Linked DNA regions of Homo sapiens: region 1 is linked to region 2. The links come from fine-mapping of genetic effects on gene expression. A gene starts in region 2. The other region holds a variant in brackets. All regions are shown on one strand. Distances are from middle to middle. Region 1 overlaps VSIG4 (V-set and immunoglobulin domain containing 4). Region 2 holds the start of HEPH (hephaestin).

Region 1 (2,914 bases), 130 kb before region 2:
CCTCTTCTGTAAAGTAAGAGTAATGATAACTATCTCATGGGACAGTTGTGGGGATTCAATGAGAAAATGTGTGTCAAGTTATTGTACTTTGTATCTGGCAAATACAATGTGCTAGTAAATCTCTCTTTCCTTTACCGTCTTTATCTACTTAACCTATGGCATGATAGGCAATGTCTCTATCCCTGTTGTCCCCAGTCCAAGTTTTTTTTCTTTGTGATTGTACAACCATTGCCTGCTTGGGATCCTCCTCTCCCAATTCTTCTTTTGCATAAGGGCACCTTTTGAGGTATCTTTGTTTCAAGCTTGTGTGTTAAGATGCTCACCAGGAAAGAGGGCCGCTCACCTTTGACCACAAACTTCACAATGTCGCTGTGCTGCTCAGAGCCAACCTGGCCCTTGGCAGTGCAGAAATAGGAGCCTGAGTCGGCTATCACCGCAGGCTTGAAGAGTAAGGTACTTAGGGTTGCTACTTTGATGGGTTCCTGGTTATTAGTCTGTTGCTTATACCAAATATAACTGATGGGAGGAGAACCCCGAGCCTGGCATTGAAGGCTAATCCTCATTCCCTGGGGCACCGTGAAGCCATAACCGCTGCCAGTTGTCACTGTGGGCTTGGAGACAGAGACTGCAAAGAAAAGACAAGACAGGAAACTCTGGGCAGTCATAAGGATATGGGACCAAAAGGCTGAATCATTCTTGTTGGGCGTAAGGGCATGCATATATCTGCAACTGGAACTAAAGGGGGCTTCTGACTTTGGAGGAAATAAGAAGGAAAGGGCAATACAAATAAAATGGCTTCCTTTGAAGGTAGGTACTTTTTGGTATTACCCGGGGTTTTGGAATACTTGGAAGTAAAAATCAACTGACCTTTAAAATTAATGTAGTTTGTTCTGGGGCTCAAGTAGAGCTTTTGATTACCTGCAGTTGTGGATTATCAGGGCCAGACTTTTGTAAAATTGTCCAGCAAGCAAACTTATCCTGGCTAACCTCTGCCTCCCTTTCCCCAGAGCTTCTCTATCAGCATCTATCTACAAATTAAATGTACTCATTTTTGAGTTGTAAAGCCCAGAGCCCAAGGAGGGTAACTAGTCCATGGATACTGGCATTTCTGGGACACTCGAAGGGATAGAGATTTGCAGGTCAGGAACCCTTCCCAGCACTTCCTAAATTTAACTATGGGAATGCTGACCCTAAGAATCCTCTGCCTGTCCACTTCCTCTGATAAGCACATATACCTGTGGAGAGCCTCTGTATAAACGAAGGCCTCTGGATTTTTCAGGCTTTTCTAGAATTACATCCACTATTGATTCATTGATTATCAGTGCTTTCCTACCCCCATAGTGACTCACGTTTCTGGACACGGAGCTCAGTAATCTTATCTCTCACGACTTGGTTGCCATCAGGAGTCTGCCAGGTGACTTCACACGTGTAGTGGCTCCGGTCATCCATCTCCAGGGTGCTCAATTGGAGGGATACATCTCCTGGAACCTTGTGGCTCACATGCAGGCGGCCCTGGTACTTTGCCTGCTGGATATGGTCTCCAGAAGAGTCACGTAGAAAGATGGTGACAGGGTCTGAGCCACGTTGTACCAGCCACTTCACCAAGACTTGGGTGTAGCCTTGCAGGGGGTCATAGGTGCAGGGAAGATTCACATCCCCTTTCCAAGGTCCTGTTACACTCTCTGGCACTTCCAGGATGGGACGGCCTGAAGAGGCGGAACAGAGGAAAGAAGCAAACGTAGATGGCATACCTACTTGGCAACTAAGGTGACAGTGACAAACCTCAAAAGGTTTCTGAGAAATGCCACTCAACTTTCTTTCTATCACAC[T/C]TTTGTGTACCTGTGCCCTTTTGCTCTTTGCCAGCCTTCTCATCAATCAGAACCAGTCTTCAGAATGAAAGCCTTTAACATTGTTTAGATCTTGTGAGTTTCAAGTCCTTTTTATGTTACTGTCTTGCTATGAAGGTGATCCTAGGTAAGTCACCTTCTTACCGTGGAAGATTCATTTACTTCATCTATAATGTGGAGAGTTTGGGTGGTAGGTGCTCTAGATATTCTATCAAATCTGTCATTCTGCAAATCCATGAAAAAATTTTCTTTTCACATTTTCCAAAAGAGATGTGGAAGCAAAAATGCTAAGCATTTGGGTCTGGACTATTTCATTTTGTGTAAATTTGCACCTGGAGAAAGGTGGAGGCTTTTGAGATCAGCAAGAAAGGGCCCTCTGCCCTGTTATCTTCTCTTGTTCCCTTAGAAATCCTCAGTGAGTGGGGTCCCAACCCTAAGATGTTCTCTGGAAGACAGGCAAAAGGAAATACTGAGGGTGGAACCAAGTGTGAGGAAGAAGTCTGGATACACATTCCTGTTTAACAAAATCATTAGCTATTGTTAAATTCAAAACCTGCACTTTGTAAACCTGACTTTTTTTCTGATTTCTTTTGTTTATTTTCCTTTTGGTTTCTCTTAGTTCTTAGCAAGGATACATAGGAAAATTTCATCTTGAGGGGGAAAAGATTGCATCCATTTTTGGTCTAGAGAGGAAAAGGTTCTGAGTGAAATCCTGAAGCTGGCTGTAGTAGGGGTGGTGATAGAAGCAATGGGAGATTGCTCCTTGGCGTGTTTGAGAAGGAAACCCTTGGGGATGGGGGTGGGGGTGGGGAAGGAGGTGGGGATGTTGAAACAGCCATTGCCTCCCATCAGAATTTTCCATCCATAAGCTCTTATTTAGAAGATTTTTTGTTTTATTTAGCTGGGGCCAGGAGTGTGGGGTGGGTATATTTAGGCAATATATTCATGTCTCTCCTAAGAGAGGTGGTTTCAAAGATATGAGGTATTCCTGAATAAAAGTCTTTTATTGAGCCTAGAAATCCCAGTATTCAGTCAAGCGGATGGAAGATGACATCTTTTGGATGGGT
Region 2 (2,914 bases):
CCTGGGTCTGTTGGGTAGATGCAGTCCTTTTTAGAGAGGCATAGTATTCTCAGACCTGTCGCCACAAATTGCTCCCCACTCATTCTTTCCCTATACTTTGTGTCTTTGAAACCTCTTTATCTTCTATGTTTAATATCTAGACTATACTTTCTTCATGGAATTCTAGATGTGTAAATTTACAGGGCTGGGAGGGTCCATATCTAGTTTAAGACCCTCATTGTAGAAATAGAAAGAGGCCCAGAGAAGAGAAGGGAGTGGGCCAAATCCACAAAATCCACATAGCTGATTACTCCTAGAGCAAGTGGGGCGAGAACCTTGGTCACTTGACTCAGGACAGTGACTTTTCACTCTTCTCTCTTTCCACCAGGAATGGGAATGACCTTTGACTTTAAACAAATCCAGACTCCAGTTTTACCCTGAATTGTTGGGGGAACATTTTGTTTTTTTTTTCTTTTTAGTATTTTCAATTCTTCCATGTCTTAGTTTTTAGGGTGTTGACCTGTGTTAATCCAGGCTATCTTCTAGCTATATCTGGTTTCCTCAGGTGGAAAATGTTAAATATAGTTAATATAAAATTTCACTCTAGAATCTGCTAGAAATGACGGAGGCAAAGTTAATGTATATATAAAAAAATCCACCAGTGACTGGTGGCCAGTAGGCTTTCAATAATTGTGAAGTCCCTTCTACCCCCTTGAAAGTACTGTGTTTCTCCCCTAAGCAGCACATTGTGTGTGGTGGTTTCATGGTTAAAAGTTTAGACAGACCCAGCAAATCTCTCTTCTCTTTTACTTCCTAAGTGTGTGACCTTGGACAAGTTACCTTCCCTCTCAGAGCTGAATTTTCCTCAGTTGTAAAATAGAGAGAATTAGAGTATTCATCTCACAGGATAATTGTGAGACTTAAATAAGAGAATGCATGTAAAATGGTTAACATAGGGCTTAGAATGTAGAAAAAAAGTCCTTTGTTTTATTGCCAATTTTATTTTTACTTATGACTAAGCAGCCATGACCTCAGAATAATAGTCAGGGCTGACAATTGTGCTTCAGAGCAAGAAGGGGAAGAGGTGGTGAGATGGAGGCTCTTTCAATTTCTACCTCATTTCTTAAATGGAGCTGTTGAAATCTACCCATGAGCTTTGGCTGGCCACACTGACAGTGTTCTCCTCTCAGCAAAGACCAATTAGCAAGTCCTGATAACAGAAGTACAACCCACCCCCTTGTAATTCCTCCTGAGATCCTAACCAGGATTTGTAAAACACCCGGATATGGGTAAAGAACCATCCCGGGTTTTGTATCAAACCAGGCCCCAGAGGAACAGGACATTCCAGTAGTTTTGTTTCTGGAAAAGAGGGCACCCAGCCCTTCCCCCTCCCTCATCCTCCCATCCCAGTAAACCCTGCCAAATTGGAATCCTGGACTTAATTTAGGAGAAAGGCCCTGTAACCAAGATACTGACTGAACATGGCTGGCGGACTCAGGCTGGGGTCTGCAGTGCAGCATTAATGGGCCGCTGACATGAATATGGAGTAGTTTTCTCTAGCAAAGGTAAGCTTTCTTTTCTCTCTTTTCAAACTCTACCTCACCTGCCTTCCTGTGCAAAAACGTTTATTTAGCTGGGTTTAAGGGAGTCCTGGCCACTAGGAGAAAAAGTCAGTGGCCAAAAAGTTGGAGGAGGTTTGGCTGATGTGCAGGAAAGTTAAAGGAGACAATAGGCTCCTTTTGTTCCTCTCGCCAAAATAGCCAGGACTACACTGGCTTGTCTGTTTCAGGGCCAATCCTGGAGCCATACAGAATAGTTCATTTTCCTGTCGAAATAGCTTGCTCATCTTCTGTTTCACAGGTTGAGGAATTTATTGAGGTGATGGATCTGAGGATTATGTAAGTGGGAACTCAGTTACTTAAAAATAACCATGTTTGGTTTCATATTTTGAGACCAGATTGGCACAGAGTAAGCCAATAAATGATAGCTTAACTAAGCTAAACATCTGAATTTGAGTAGTCTTAGTTTCTACATAGCAAAAATCTTTTAGAAATCATTGGTTCAAATTCTGGCTATTTTTAACAACTGGCTGCGTGACTTTGAGCAAATCCTTGCACCTCTCTGGTATCAGTTTTTTATACATCAAATGAGGGTGATTGAAAAAGATGGTTTCTAAAGGTTTCATGCATGTGTGAATCTATAACACGTTCAGTTTTTCATTACTCAGCATCTATTATATGACAAGCAATCCTTTTGCTAGGGACTCAAATATCCATGGTTTTATTTGGGCCTCAAGACAATCCTGTGAAAAAAATATCATCCCATTTTTTGGATGAGATGACTAAGGCTAAAATAATTTATTGAAAGGTCACATAGCTATCACAGACAAGAGATAGGATTTGAATCAAGGTCTTTAACTTCAAATCGGTATGTTTTCTATCACAGAGTTAAGAAAGCAGAGGACCAAAAGGTGAATTTTGATGGAGGGTTTATTAGGAAGGCTGCTGAGAGATTGAAGACAGGGCCCCAAAGATGGCTCAGCATTCCTTTATTCAGTTGAGTAATCCTTTGTTTAGGATGAGCCTGTCTAGCCCAAAGTAGTATAACTGAGAAAGGGAGATGGAGGGAGAGAAAAGAGCATTGTCGCAATAAAGGAACAGTTTGCAAATTCTAGGGAACACAGCAATGCAAATTGTTATGAATAATAGGGACCAGACCCAGGTGACACTGGGATGGCAGGAAGGTAAGGTAAAGGTAAGGGAGGCTTAACTTTATATTGGCTGATCTTCTCTCCAGGTTGGCACAAGGTTTCAGTATATCTTAACTAAACTATCCAAATAGCCTAGAATTTTTCTTTCTTTTTTCCTTCCTTTGAGTGCCTATTCCTTCTGCCTTCCTTTTTATTTTGTATTTTTTACTTTTTTCCAGGATTCTT

The links.
Region 1: its variant is fine-mapped to the expression of HEPH in whole blood (TOPMed, PIP above 0.99).

Annotation. Positions count from the first base shown.
Region 1 is chrX:66,032,125-66,035,038 of GRCh38, forward strand. It overlaps VSIG4 (V-set and immunoglobulin domain containing 4), which reads right to left. Exons shown (of 8, transcript NM_007268.3): 2 at 1,350-1,706; 3 at 344-625. Among named protein-coding and RNA genes, the nearest start is that of VSIG4, 6.5 kb to the right of the region's middle. RefSeq lists an enhancer at 401-1,600. The variant T/C (reference allele first, on the strand shown) is at 1,830.
Region 2 is chrX:66,162,927-66,165,840 of GRCh38, forward strand. It overlaps HEPH (hephaestin), which reads left to right and starts at 1,321. Exons shown (of 21, transcript NM_001367233.3): 1 at 1,321-1,544.